Homo sapiens: one gene and its partners. The protein of the gene in region 4 purifies or fractionates together with the protein of the main gene of each other region. This does not show direct contact. Each region holds a gene or a part of one and is shown on either strand. Other genes may lie near its edges.

Region 1 (3,567 bases), on a different chromosome or scaffold from region 4:
GGCGACAGAGTGAGACTGGATCTCAAAAAAAAAGAAAAAAAGCAAAACTTTCTCTCTCTCTCTCTCTCTCTCTCTCTATATATATATATATAATTTCTTTTTGGATATATAAATTTACACCTTGTAGCTTTGAGTCAGAATTAAATATTTTCTGTATTTGATGACTGTGTAGTCAGGGTTCACTGTGGGATACAGAAACCACTAGATATTTTAAGCAGCAAAGGATTCAATACAGGCAATTAGGTTTTAGGCAGGTCTTCTTAGAATAACTCCTGAAACAATAGGAAATTGATCCATTAGAGGAGGCAATACCTCTGAGGCTGTCATTGGAGCTGTGCCACAGCCCAAGTAGCACTGGCACTAGGGACCTGAAGTATGGAAGCTGCCATCCAGGGATTAGGGAGCTGAATGAAGAAGTCGCTGCTATAGTCAGTTTCTGAATACCTAGGAACTTTCAAGAAAACTAGCTTCTTAACAACAACAGCCAGAACTCCCAGTAAGGTGGTCTCTGTCTCACTTACACCTTCTAAGTTTTATGCAGATGCATCAGATGGTGGAACCCAATTCACAGCATCCTAGCAGCTAAGTAGAATGGTAGGAAGTGGTAGTAGAATAGGTGGAAAAATACAGTTTTAAGCTTTCCAGCCTCTGCAAGCAGAAGAGAGTGGATAGGTTGAGAATGTCAGTGATAGGATAGGTTGAGAGTATCATTAAAATGTAATTAATTGTTCACCAATTTCTTTAAATGGGGATTGAGTTGAGCGGACCAAAAAAATTATGCTGACATTTCTTCAACTTTCTGATTATTTTGTTTTTGATTAGGATTGGGCCGAGCCTATGCCCTGGCTTTTGCAGAAAGAGGAGCGTTAGTTGTTGGTAAGTTGGTGTGTTTTTCTTTTTAATCTGTAGCTGATAACTGAAATACAATCTTTACAAGCTATCTTTGTCTTTCTATCAAATAATTTGTCAAGGTTGAATTTTATTATTAATTTTTACTTTTGCCAGAAGGTTTTTACCCCGACTAAGGCTGTCTGTCTAAATTACTTTTAAAAGGGAACCAGTTTCACAGAATTCCCAGCTTAACAGAATTGATAACGAAGGGCTAGGGGGTAGGCATGCTGGCTTGTGGCTATAACTCCAGTGACTCAGGAGGCTGAGGTGGGAGGATCGCTTGAGACCAGGAGTTCGAGCCTGCAGAGAACTATGATTATACCACTGCACTCCAATCTGGGTGATGGCGCAAAAAAAACCCTGTTTCTCACAGAAAAGGGTGGGGACAAGCATTTATTGTATAAAAGGAAATTCTTGACTTCAGTAAATTGTAGGCTGTAATTTTTTGAGACAGGAGGTTTGTCTACTGGTGCGAGATCAAAAGAGAGCCCCTGTAAGTGTATTGATAAAAGTAAGAAATAACTGAATTTTGAGAACTGGAAGTTTGGAGTCAAGGAATCTAAAGTATGGGTTTCTTGACTCTTTCATCAAAACTTTTCAGCTGGAAGTGTTTTAAAAAAATTTAATTGAGGGGGCAGTTACATGAGTTTTTGTTTGTGGAGGGGTCAGATGGAAGATACTGTATTGAAGAATCCTAAAGGTGGGAGGTTTTAGTAATCTGCATGGTTTGGACTGATCTAATGTGCTTGACAGTTGGTGTGGACACAGAAACGAATTTGTCCACAACTGAGCCTTTCTGGGGAATAACTAAATGGGTGCTAAGTGCAGGGGGATATGTAGGACCCAGTACTTATTAGCATATTTCCTGGGATAAAACTGTGGGCCCACAATGATCTTCTAATTTCAGCTTTCTGACATCTTAACGAGGCAATACAGAGAGACGAATTTTCATCAGTTTGTTCAGGGAGACACATATAACAAAAGAGTAAGCAAGCAACCAGGTTTTCTAAACAAGCCCTAAGCAGAGCACTTGATACACTTTTCTCCTTCATTGTGGATGTGTAGCTTATCTTTATGGAAGGAACACTGACGCTTTGGATGTTCCTTGTTTAAGATCATAGGCACTGTCTGCTAATCCAATCTGCTTCTTCTGGCAGGGATGAATTTTGACATTGTATTATTTGGACAGCGAGTATATATTTCAGGCCCACTTTGTCAGATTTTCCCAAGAATAGCTCATGTTGAGGCCTAAAGACACATGCTGTTACTATTTTTAATTTTCCTTCCTTTTTATGTTGCTATTTAGTTCTTAATATTTTTACCTTATATGTTTTTATTTATTTACATCTTTTCTGCTCAATTCCATAACGGCAAGGATCTTGTTTTATCTTTTGTATCTACTAAAGGACCTAGAATATTTCTTTGTGCAAAGAAGGTACTTTGTTCATTGGTTCTTTTATTGTTGATATACTTTTCTGGGGGAAGGGTGTGTTTGAGATTGGTTGAATACATTTCTTTTTTTTGTTCTTGACTAAGATATAAACTTAGTTTATAAACCTGTTTTGTAAAAAATTTTATAACAGTGTGTTCCTGTGCATCAATTTTCCTTTATTTCCCTGTTCCCTCTCAATTTCTTAAATTCAGATTAGGAGTATTTGAATTCTAAGAAAAAATTAAACAGAGATGCTGTGTCTATCTATTTTGTCATTGCATTATTATAGTAGAGATGATAATTGTGTCAAGTCCTGATAAAAGTCCAAGAATATAGAAGAAAAATATTTCATAAACTTGAATGAAGAGCCAGATTTAGTTTAGTATTAAGGAGGAGAATTCAATCCATGTGGAAGTGCAGAAATTTTGACTGATGTTTTCTATTCCTTTTTAAAGTCTGTGTCTTACCTGTTAGCCTTTTTACATGTACACCATAGACACCGTGTTTCCAAGTTGCATCACACACACTAATTTTTTTTTTTTTTTTGAGATGGAGTCTTGCTCTGTTGCCCAGGCTGGAGTGCAGTGGCGTGATCTTGGCTCACTGCAACGTCTGCCTCCGGGTTCAAGCAGTTCTCTGCCTTAGCCTCCCAAGTAGCTGGGATTACAGGCGCCTGCCACCAAGCCTGGCTAATTTTTTTTTTTTTTTTTTTAAGTAAAGATGCGGTTTCACCATCTTGGCCAGGCTGGTCTTGAACTCCTGACCTCTTTTTAGAAGTGGCATGTCACTTCTACCGACATTTCATTGGCCAAAGGAAATCATTTGGCTAAGCCAAAAGTTAGGGGCATCATTTAAGATAGTCTCCAATTTTGTGTTAATATGATTGCTATGTTTTATATTCCATAATATAAAGCTTATGGGATATTTAAATTTGGTATAAGAACTGCTAAGCCTTAGGCTGATACTGTAAAAAGGGACATTTGCTTTTGTGTAAATTACATCTTTCAGGAAATGCTTGTGCATTTCTTAAGTAGGTTATTGGGAATTCAGTAGTTTTGAGGTTTCCTCAGTAGGTGAGCTATATCTAGTTCTCTGAATAGTAAGTTTTATTTTGAGGACATAAACACAAGAAGGACTGACAAAAAGGAGCAAAAAGAACTCCTTAGTAAAAGAAAGGGAGTTCTACTCTTGAACTGAAGTAACACCTTTGGGTAAATTGAATTACAATCTTTTTAAGTAAGATT
Region 2 (4,076 bases), on a different chromosome or scaffold from region 4:
AAAAATCTCAATACCACTCCTATTGCAAAAATAGTAACTGTTACAATTCATCTCAAGCCAAACAGAAAATGCTATTTATCTTATTAATAATGCCAATAGCAGATTTCCATTTCAAACAACTATTCTGCACTCTACTAAGGAAACCCAAATGATGATGTAGAAAAGTAAAATTAAAAATTAACTTGGAATACTGGGATTACCCGTTTACTGAAAAATCTCAATGTAATTTTTTAAAGAAGTTTGCGTTTAATACTTTCAGGGATACCCAAACTATTTCATGAAGACTTGCCAAATAAATAATTATAATTTACACTCACTTTCTTTGGTGGGGGAGACAGGGTCTCTCTTGCTCTGCTACCCAGGCTGGAGTGCACTGGTGCGATCTTGGCTCACTACAGCCTCGACTTACCCAGGCTCAGGCAATGCTCCCACCTCAGCCTCCCCAGTAGCTGGGACTACAGGTGTGCACCACCACACCCGGCTAATTTTTGTATTTTTTGTAGAGCCAGGGTTTCACCATGTTGCCCAGGCTGGTAGGGAACTCATGGGCTCAAGCAATCAGCTCACCTCAGCCTCCCACAGTGCTAGGATTTACAGGTATGAGCCACTGCGCCTGGAGTAATTTACATGTCTTTAATGTACAAATAAATGTTGCGTTAATCCAGAATCCAGTACTTACACTTAAGTACCACTGTTCCCCAAAGTGGGGGTCTGAAGATACATTCACTGAGGTCTGTTTTCCTTTAAAAAAGGGTACGTAGATTAACCAGAAGCTAAACTAGCAAAGACATCAAATTACTTCACACATTCTACATCTGAAAAATATTAATCAGGTTTGCTATTAAAGTATTTGCACAGTAACAAAAAAAGAAAAAAAGCCTATTTTCTTCAACAAACCAATATCCATACTAACACTTCAACAAAAACTACAAATGGCTTCTGGAATACTTACTTTATCCATATTAAAGTCCCAAGACTCCCTCCTATGCAAATTGGCTTAGCTACTCTTTTTAAGATATTTTAGAAAGCACCATAAGCTATACATATTCTTGTCTCTCCTAAGCTTTTAAAAAAATTTTAACGGGATTTACCCTGGGAACATAAATTCATCTACAAGAGAAATTAGAGACGTTTCAAGGAATAATTATATCTCAAATTCAAAAAAACTCTAGTAATTTATCCTACCTCACTTAAAAACTATCTTTTAACCAAGTAGTTTCATGAGCACAAATCTCATGAATTCCAATTCAAGCAGACTATTTAGAAAGTTTATTCTCATTTGCCACAGTTAAACAAAACTAATGCTTAAACTTCTCTACCCTTGAGACAGTAGGGTAATGTACCATTTATGCCTCTACAATAACACACCTTGGAGACCAACTGTAAGAGACCAGCTCTCAAAATGGGCACTTCTGTGGTTCCAACATGCTATATTTCCTTAAGCAAATTCTCCAGAAATTCAACTCTTAACACACTAAATTACACAAAAGCAAAACACGAAAATTACCCTCAAGTAGTCTGCAATTAAAATTTTGCGTTTTTCTAGTTATGAATGCAAAAAGTATTTTTGTGCCTTTGTGTTCATTTGAAGACAATAATCTGTTAAAATTTCTATGAAAAGAAGAGTGGGTCCCTAAAAGATCACTTAAGTCAGTGAAATTTAAAGCGCATTTTAAATAACTGCTATTTTTATCCAACGATTCATCCCACTTAATCACCATTATAACTAAACAATACGTAACGTGCCTCTTCTAATCAAGACTTAAGGGGATACAGAGAGGGAAACGGGAGGGAGACAGAATTTAAATAAGTAATATCTCATCAGATCCATTTGATTTTTAACTAGCGAAGAAAAAGTCATTTTCCAGATATGGTGAGGGAGAGAATTTTTTTTAACTCTGCGACTACTTCGTAAAGCCCAAGGTCATGATGTAGCATATTCACACTCTAAACGTGAGTTTCCCCTGCAGAAAATAATCTACACCAACCCATAATTATTCTTTACGATGATCCACCTTTTATAATGTAGATGTTTAAAATAAAAACCAAAGGAATGACCAATGAGAGCCACAGTCCCTAGGAAGAACTGTAAATGAAGACGAATCCACATGGCACAGGATTTCTCCCAACATCCTCAAACGGGAATCATCCGAAGGCATCGATTCTACAGCCCAAAGCCTTTGTCCACAACTCCCAGGGGTCAGAGCTTCCTTCTTTCGCGCCAGGCCAAAGTTGCTACGTGGGATCCGATGTTGTCGCCAGACTTTCAGCCAAAATCAGCCTTCAAATTAACCTGGACCGCCCAACCTCCGTGCCTTTCCGTTACGCCGTCTCAAGGGCAAACATTCCACCCTAACTCGCCAGAGGGTGAACTGCCCCCAGATCTAACTGAAAACACTTGCCCTTCTCAAGCCTAACGAGCTGGGCCTGCAGCGCTTTTCTGCCACCACTGACTACGATGACATAGCAAAGAAAAAAATATACCTATGAAATCCTTCGAGATCTTCACTCTCAAGATCCCTGGGAAGCGCACATACACCACCACATGGAAGCTGACGGGAAAGGAAGAGTCGGTGTTTTAGCAAGAAAAGAGGGTGCCCTAACGGCAGGAGCTACGCTAGATACTGGCGCGGCCGCCGGTCCCGCCTTTCCCCGTTCTTCCGGCTTGGTCGCCCAGCCCTCCCCACCCCCGGCGCCCCGAGGGGAACTGCTTCGCACTTGGCAATAAACACACACCACTGCTGCCGAGTCGGACACACAAGGCCGGAGGCTGAGGGAACTCTTCGTCGCAGCAGCCTCCCCAAAACAGGTAGACCCTCAGTGAGCCCAGAAGAAGATGGCGCCCACTGCCCCTCCGGTCCGGACAAACGGACGTACGGTTTATCTGCCCATGCGCTCTGCAGGCGCAACCCACCACCAAGCTTGCGCACGCGCGCTGCCGCTCACCCGTTTCCCCTCGCTAGAGGAGGGGAGGCGGAGCCCCGGGGTTGGCTGAGCTTCTGCGCATGCCCAGATTCTGCCCAGCCCAGGGACCTCGACTTTCAACGGGAGAAATTCAGAGACACATTCAGGGCTCAGCCGGTAGATGTGCTGAGAATCTTCGGTAGACAACTGTCGAAGTACGGCGGACAAACTTTAAAGATTTCCAGAAGTTAAGGAAAGAGATGCAAAAGCAGAGAAAAGGCGACTTGTCTTTTCAGTGTTGCATTACTGTGTGGCGTAAAACATCTTCTAAAAAGCTCCTGTGGCCGGGCACGGTGGCTCACGTCTGTAATCCCAGCACTTTGGGAGGCCGAAGCGGGCGAATCACTTGAGGTCAGTAGTTCGAGACCAGCCCGCCCAAAAAGCGAAACCCCCGTCTCTACTAAAAATACAAAAAAGTCAGCCTGGCATGGTGGCGGGCGCCTGTAATCCCAGCTACTCGGGAGGCTGAGGCAGGAGAATCGCTTGAACCCGAGAGATGGAGGCTGTAGTGAGCCGAGATCGCACCGCTGCACTCCAGCCAGGTCAAAAGAGTGAAACTCCATCTCAAAACAAAAATAAAAAAGCTCCTGTAGACCCTAGAATACCACAGAAAAGGTAATTTTACTGCCTTAGATGTTCGCCAAGTACAATCCCAACACCTGGGGGCTTAATAAATGCATGCTTAGTCGGTTTTATAGATATAAATAACCTTGTGAAGTGTCTTTATAAATTTGTTCCCATCTTCTGGATTTTTGAAACAAGAGAACAGATGAGCCAGTACTGAAATTTCAGTAATGGAAAAGCACTATTACAGGTGTACTCTGTGATGCCTGCTACGTAATAGCTGGTGAACAACCTTGTGTTTGGTTTTATCATTTGCAAATAACAAAGTTTCCCACCACGTTGTATAGCTACTTGATGTATTTGTGGATGGATTCAAAGCTCATTAAGCAGAAAGTACATTTTAAAAACATTGTTACAGATGACAGAAAAAGTGAGTTGTGGATCCCTTTCTCACTGCAAAATACCCATTCTTTAATGATATGATTATAAGAAAGAAGAGGTAGTTTAATAAGTAAATAAAAAGATAGTTAACACAAAATCAGAGCCAT
Region 3 (3,567 bases), on a different chromosome or scaffold from region 4:
GCAGATCAGGGCTGTCCATGTGAGGGATCCAGGCTCTTTTTGTGTCGATACTGTGTTACTTTTGACATGGGGTGGGTGCGTGCGGCTCTTAACAGAAAGATTCAAGTTTAATAGATACAGAAGAATTGATGGAATCAGAAGAATCATCATTTTGCAACCCCCATGGTAATAACTGGTTCAGAAAGTAGTCATCAGTGGCCAAACCATAGGTGAAAAGTTGTGCTGTGTGCAAAGTATCCAACAGATTATTTATTTAAAATGGAGGAAAATTCCTTTACAACTAAGATGTGGCTAATATCTCAGTTATAAAGGTACTTTAATGGGTCCGACTGACATGCTTTCTAATGGGGTGCAAAAAAAAAAAGATGGAGACTGTTTTAGATTAAAAGAGGCCAACAAATGAAAACCAAATGGGTATATAATGCTTGAATGAGATTCCTGGATTTTAAAAAATAGATGTATATTTGTCAGTAAACTAGAAGGAACTCAAATGCTAATCAGTTGAGGATTGGTTGAGTAAAATTTGATATAGCCAAACAACAGAATTCCATTCAGCCATTAAAAAGAATGAAAAGGGGGAAAAAACATGTAAAGGGCATTGTAGGGGTAGTTGGGTAAATTTGAATATGGATTATTATGAGGAGTTTTTTCCCACAGTAACAGATTCTTCAAAGCCAACTAAGTGTCCAACAATTCAATTTGATTCTGGACACTATCTACCTGGAGTTAGTGTCATATTCCACAAGTTAAGAGAAATCAGTTCCACAAGACTGCTCCCACTGCGGGCATGCCAATCGCAAGTCCTGAGTCGCTCTTTTTTTTTTTTTTTTTTTTTTTTTTTTTTTTTTTTTTTTTTTGAGTTTCCTTCTTGTCACCCAGGCTGGAGTGCAATGGCGCGATCTCAGCTCACTGCAACCTCCGCCTCCCGGGTTCAAGAGATTCTCGTGCCTCAGCCTCCCAAGTAGCTGCGATTACAGGTGCCCACCGCCACACCTGGCTACTTCTTGTATTTTTTATTAGATACAGGGTTTCACTATGTTGGTCAGGCTGGTCCTAAACTCCTGACCTCAGGTAATCCACCCACCTCGGCCTCCGTGAGCCACTGCGCCTGGCTTCTGAGTCACTCTTACTTCTGACCAACCAGCTGTAAATTAGGGATTCCTACAACCCCCTGCTCAGCTTCAGTAATTTGCTAGAGCAGCTCACAGAACTTAGGAAGCCAGTTTGCTTACTATTACTGGTTTATTATAAAGGATATATCTCAGGAACAACCAAACAGAAGAGATGCCTAGGGCAAGGTATTGTAGGTGCAGAGGGTGGGGAGATGCATGGGCCTTCTGGACATGTCGCCCTCCCTCATTGTGTTCACCAGTCTGGAAGCTCTCTCTAAACCCTGCCATTTAGGGGGTTTTGTGGCTAAAAATATATGTATGTATGATCAATTATTTCATCACGTATGATTGCATATGTGTGATCAATTATTAACTGAATCTCCAGCCCCTCTTCTCTCTCTGAAGGTTGGAAAGTGAGGCTGAAAGTTACAGACCTCTAACCAAGGCATGGTTTTTCTGGCAACCAGCCCTATCCTGAAGCTATCTGGGGGTCTGCCAAGAGTCTCTTCTTTGGATGCGAATGCTAAGGGATTTAAGTGTTCTCTGTCAAGAATCTGAGAGAAATATCAAATAGTAGGCTGGGTGTGGTGGCTCATGGCGGTAATCCCAGCACTTTGGGAGGCCGAGGCAGGCAGATCACTTGAGGTCAGGAGTTCCAGACAAGCCTGGCCAACGTGGTGAAACCCTGACCACTAAAAAGAAGTACAAAAATTAGCCGGGCATGGTGGCGAGCACCTGTAATCACAGCTACTCAGGAGGCTAAGGCAGGAGAATTGCTTGAACCTGGGAGGTGGAGGGTGCAGTGAGCAGAGATCATACCACTGCACTCCTGCCTGGGCAATAGAGCAAGACTCATATATCAAAAAAAAAAAAAGAAGAAAGATCAAATAGAACAAAAGATGCTCCTATCAGTCCTATCACTTAGAAAATTACAAGTTTTAGGAGCACTGTGCTAGAAACTGGGGACAGAGGTCAAATGTAGGAACTGGGGACAGAGGTCAAATGTAATGTTTCATGTTATGCCACAGCTATGGAGTAGATGATAATCACTATTAAATTTCTTTGGTGTAGTAATGGTTTTGGATTTAAGTAGCAGAATATCTTTATTCTTTAGGAATATAAGCTGAAGTATTAATAATTAGGGGTGAAGTGTCACAGTGTCTTTAACTTTCAGTTTGTTCCAGAAGATTGTGTGTTTAGAGAGGGATAAATATGGCAAAACATCTTTGTAGATTTGAAAATTTCAAAACAAAAGTTCAAGAAGGGGAATTGCACATTTATTCTTTCAGACAACCTTCAGGATCATTTTGTCAAGTTCCCTCAGAAATCTCACTGGTATTTTTGAAGGTTGCAATTAAGTTATTATAGGTTACTCTAGGGAATATTGGGCACATTTGCAATTTTGAGTCTTGTCTAAGAACAAGGTATCTCTCCCTTTATTCATGTTGGCATTATGCCTCTCAAAGTTGGAGTTTTGTTTTTATAGATCCTATACTCTTATGGTTATGTAGGTAGAATGTTTCTTGTTGTTTTTGAGAATGTGATTTTTACTGTATTTTGTTCTACTAGTTCTTGTTTGTCATAATATAAATATCAACAACTTCAGTATCTGTTGGTATTTCAGTTGGTTCTTTTGGGCTTTCTAGGTGTATAGCTAATGTTTCAAATGGTGATAAATATGCTCTTTTTTACTTGTAAATCTCTCCTATTGTCCTCTTATCTACTTACATTGACTAGAATTTCCTTTTTTTTTGAGACAGAGTTTCGCTCTTGTTGCCCAGGCTGGAGTGCAAAATGGTGCAATCTCGGCTCACTGCAACCTCTGCCTCCTGCGTTCAAGCGATTCTCCTGCCTCAGCCTCCCGAGTAGCTGGGATTACAGGAGTGAGCCACCACACCCGCTAATTTTGTATTTTTAGTAGAGACGGGGTTTCTCCATGTTGGTCAGGCTGGTCTCGAACTCCCGACCTCAGGTGATCCGCGCCCCCCACCGCCTCCCAAAGTGCTGGGATTATAGGCGTGAGCTACCACGCCTAGCCTACATTGACTAGAATTTCTGAAAGAGCATTAAACAGTAGTGATGCTAACAACTACTTTTGACTTGTTTCCTGCTTCACTGGAATTAATGCTACAGGAGTGTTTCACCATTAACGATAATGCTGATTGTTGATTTGAAAAATATCTGAGAATATGTGTGTCATATAAAGGAATGAATGTTGAATTTCTTTTTTTTAATTTATATTTTTCTTTTTTAAAATTTATTTTGTTGTTTCTGTAGTAGATATGAATGTTGAATTTCACCGTGCACTTTTGGTTTCTATCGTGGGATTTTTTTTTTCTATCATGGGATTTTTATAGGATTTTTCCTTCACTTCAATAAACTATATTAGTAGATTTCCTAATGTTGAATAGTGTCTCTTTTAAAATGAGATTGGCATATGGGGTTTTAAATTTGT
Region 4 (3,567 bases):
CTGTAAAAATGGACTCAGTAGTTTTCTTACATTGTAATACTAGAATTGAACAAAACTACTGAGTGAAATTGAATGGTATGTCTAAATATCTAAAATATAGGTGTTCAGGCCAGGTGCAGTGGTTCATACCAGTAATCCCACCACTTTGGTAGGCTAAAGCAGGAGGAACACTTGAGGTCAAGAGTTTGAGAGCAGCCTGGACAACATAGTGAGACCCTGTCTCTACAAAAAAAGGGAGAAATTTTAAATAGAATTTTTAAAAAAGAAAAAAATATAGGTGTTTAAAAGCAAGGGTATAAGTTGAGGGCACAGCTAAAGCTTTTACTTGAGATTTGGAAAGTGATTTTAGGTATTTTTTAAGGGCTTTATTAAAAAAGTTAGATCTTTCAGATCAAGCCCCGTGACTTTCTTTGTCTTCAGCTCAGAGCTGATCTTACATATGTCACCTACAATTTGGGTTCTTTAGCCAGGCGTGATGATGTGTGCCTATAGTCCCAGCTACTCGGGAAGCTGAGGTAAGAGGACCGCCTGAGCCCAGGAGTTTTGGGCTGTAGTGGGCTGTGCTAACCAGGTATCTGCACGAAGTTTGGCAGCAACATGGTGACCTTCTAGGAGTGGGGAACCACCAGCTTGCTAAGGAGGGGTGAACCGACCCAAGTAGGAAAGGGAGCAGGTCAAAACTCCCATGCCAATGAGTAATGGGATTGTGCCTATGAATATTCACTGCACTGCAGCCTGGCAACGTAATAAGACCTCGTCTCTAAATAATAATGATAATAATTTGTGTTCTTAACCAACAGAGAAAGGGTGTTTATAGTACTGTTATTCATGGTGCAACAGCATTTCCTGGCACACAAATCAAACCTCTCCTGTTTGCCTTTGGAGTGCTGTGGCCTTTGGCGAGAAGCCAGGTCTGCCCACAGCCCCAGGCTCTGTCCTTTCTGCCTGTGCAAGGTGGGAGCCGGATATTAGAGAAGACTTGGCCAGGGGCTCTGAGCAGAGAGCTGTGCTGGGAACCCTCAGGACCCCTATCCACTCCAGCTTCCTAAGATGTGTTAGCTGCATACCTCTGGGTGAGAAAACGGGCAGAGGAAGAGTGACTTTCCGAAGGGTGATGCAAACCACCAGCTCTTACAGAGGGGAGATGCCGGATCACGGCCTCTGGGTGTGAGAATTGAGGAGATGTGGTGTAGAGTTGAGAAGTAAGAATATCCCTGACAGTTTTTCATCCCCACCTCTTGATTCTGAGAAGAATACCCACTCAAAAATATCTGATGAGAAGATGTGGAGAGGCCGAGTGCGGTGACTTACACCTGTAATCCCAGCACTTTGGGAGGCTGAGACGGGCAGATCACTTGAGGTCAGGAGTTTGAGACCAGCCTGGCCAACGTGGTGAAATCCCTTCTCTACTAAAAATACAAAAATTAGCCAGGCATGGCAGCGCATGCCTGTAGTCCCAGCTACTCGGGAGGCTCAGACAGGAGAATTGCTTGAACCTGGGAGGCGGAGGTTGCAGTGAGCTGAGATTGCTCCATTGCACTCTAGCCTGGGCAACAGAGCAAGACTCTGTCTCAAAAAAAAAAAAAAAGAAGAAAAGACAAGCTGTGGTGACACCTTGTATAGCTTCTTCAGTATGTGATGTTCCTGTGCCTTCTGATTAGTGCTCAGCGTGGTTCTCTGTGTTAGTTCCATGACCTTCTACTTTTATGTGTTTCCAGTAATTTGAATAGATAACCAGGATTATTATTAATTGGTATGTGGTATTTGGAAATGCTGTATCTGTTCCTGAAACTTACATGTTGATGACGTACTCACCTCAGAATTTCTCTAGAAAATGCATAGGGCTTATTGAGAGGGTTGCTCAGTGGTGTCACCTTCTTTGTCCACTTGCAGCTGAAACATTAACAAACGTGCTGGATTTCAAAAGGGATGCTGGTCTGTGGCATGGCGTGTTAACAGTGAGTGTTGTTTGCTGATGACTAACTGTTGGAACAAGGGATTGAGATGAACCCAAGCCTCTGCCTGAAATGTTGTTGGGAGAGTACATCGGTTTTGTTTTGCTTTTTCTGGTGTGGCTCGGGCCCACTCGCCCTAAGCATGTGTGCTCCCCCACAGAGCGTCATGAACAGGATGCACGTGGTCAGCGTCCCCTACGCGCTGATGAAGGCGAACCCACTCTCCTGGATCCAGAAAGTGTGCTTCTATAAAGGTAACGGATACCATGGTCAGGGCCTTCACCCTTCTTTAGGGAAATCTCTTTGAACTGACCTTTGGTGCTTAAGAAAAAATAAAGCTGACATGTGGAACTGCAGATGTAGGCTGAAGAGCTGTGGGACGTCTTTCTTGGTCACACCCCTGCCCAGGAATATGGGGGCTTTCTCTGCCTCTGGCATGGCCCTCAGGGTTTCGTGGGTGATGTGGTAAGTAGGGCCACTTGGTGGGGTCTGGGCCTTACTTCTCTCAACGGTTGAGGTGCCTCCTGGGACCAAGCAGGAGGCCCCAGCATGGCCACACCTGCACAGTTGGCAGTCTGTGTCTCTGCCCTGTGGAGCTCAGTGGCACTTCTACCAGCCACTGAGGCACTGGATCACCTGGGTCACCCATGTTGCCTTGTTCTACCTACTGGGCTGTGCCCCTCTAGACATGTCTCAGAGCAGTGTGGAGGGGCAGCTCTCTCTGTCTGTCCTACTTTATGGAGGGAAACTGAAGCTTGGGTAGGGGTGGGGGGATTGCTGGATTCCACATGCTAGCCAGTGCAGGGGCCAGACTGAGGCCTGAGACCATCTGTTTAGCTTCTGGGGTCCTCACACTTCTCAGCCAGCACCAGGGGTTTGGGGAAGGACAACATGAGATGAAGCGGGCAGATAGGAAAAGAGCAATATGGAGCTTCTAAGAAAAAATTAATGTTGGAAATGGATCTGAGGTTTTGATGTCTAAATTGTACCTCAGAGTTGATTTTTGTGGAAAAAGCTTTGAGGGTTTGTTAGACTGCATGTGAGAGACGGCTGCAGAGAGCTTGTGACCTGGGAGCTAAGTGTTGTGTCTGTCTGTGCATGTACACCTCTCTGTGGGATGAGGTACACGTGTCTGTAGGCGTGTGAGGGTGCCAGTCCTTGTGACGCAGGGATGTCTGTGCCATCCTCTCTCTGCAGCTCGGGCCGCGCTGGTGAAGTCGCGAGACATGCACTGGTCTCTCCTAGCTCAGCGGGGCCAGAGGGACGTCAGCCTCAGCTCACTGCGCATGCTGATTGTGGCCGATGGTGCCAACCCGTGTGAGTGAGCCTGTGTGCCCGGCGCATACCCCACACAGTGTCCCCTCCTGCAAACCAAAGTAGAATACACTGAGAAGCAAAATGGAGGCATTTTCACTGCCATTGTCATATAGATACACATGTCCCATCGTTTCTATGACACGGAACATCTTGGTGATTCACTGGTTTATCCCATGCATGTTTATTAGGCCACTAAATTTAAAAGCAATTTTAATATGCTTGATGAAAGGTACATGCCTTAATGAGAGTCATCTTTCTTAAGAAATTACCAGATTGTGCTGTGGCCTGGGGTTCC

Evidence for each region.
Region 1: the proteins of DIP2A (region 4) and HSD17B4 purify together in Homo sapiens (affinity purification with mass spectrometry, with the first as the bait; one large-scale study listed by BioGRID). This does not show direct contact.
Region 2: the proteins of DIP2A (region 4) and RBM12B purify together in Homo sapiens (affinity purification with mass spectrometry, with the first as the bait; one large-scale study listed by BioGRID). This does not show direct contact.
Region 3: the proteins of DIP2A (region 4) and NKTR purify together in Homo sapiens (affinity purification with mass spectrometry, with the first as the bait; one large-scale study listed by BioGRID). This does not show direct contact.

Annotation. Positions count from the first base shown.
Region 1 is NC_000005.10:119,455,493-119,459,059, forward strand, and holds part of HSD17B4 (peroxisomal multifunctional enzyme type 2), read left to right. Parts: intron 1-822; coding exon 823-876; intron 877-3,567. UniProt on the Homo sapiens protein: Bifunctional enzyme acting on the peroxisomal fatty acid beta-oxidation pathway.
Region 2 is NC_000008.11:93,738,145-93,742,220, forward strand, and holds the start of RBM12B (RNA-binding protein 12B), read right to left. Parts: upstream 2,866-4,076; 5' UTR 2,737-2,865; exon of another isoform or gene 2,553-2,736; 5' UTR 2,485-2,552; exon of another isoform or gene 1-2,484.
Region 3 is NC_000003.12:42,607,156-42,610,722, forward strand, and holds part of NKTR (NK-tumor recognition protein), read left to right. Parts: intron 1-3,567. UniProt on the Homo sapiens protein: PPIase that catalyzes the cis-trans isomerization of proline imidic peptide bonds in oligopeptides and may therefore assist protein folding. Component of a putative tumor-recognition complex involved in the function of NK cells.
Region 4 is NC_000021.9:46,535,331-46,538,897, forward strand, and holds part of DIP2A (disco-interacting protein 2 homolog A), read left to right. Parts: intron 1-1,893; coding exon 1,894-1,958; intron 1,959-2,115; coding exon 2,116-2,209; intron 2,210-3,152; coding exon 3,153-3,272; intron 3,273-3,567. UniProt on the Homo sapiens protein: Catalyzes the de novo synthesis of acetyl-CoA in vitro. Promotes acetylation of CTTN, possibly by providing the acetyl donor, ensuring correct dendritic spine morphology and synaptic transmission.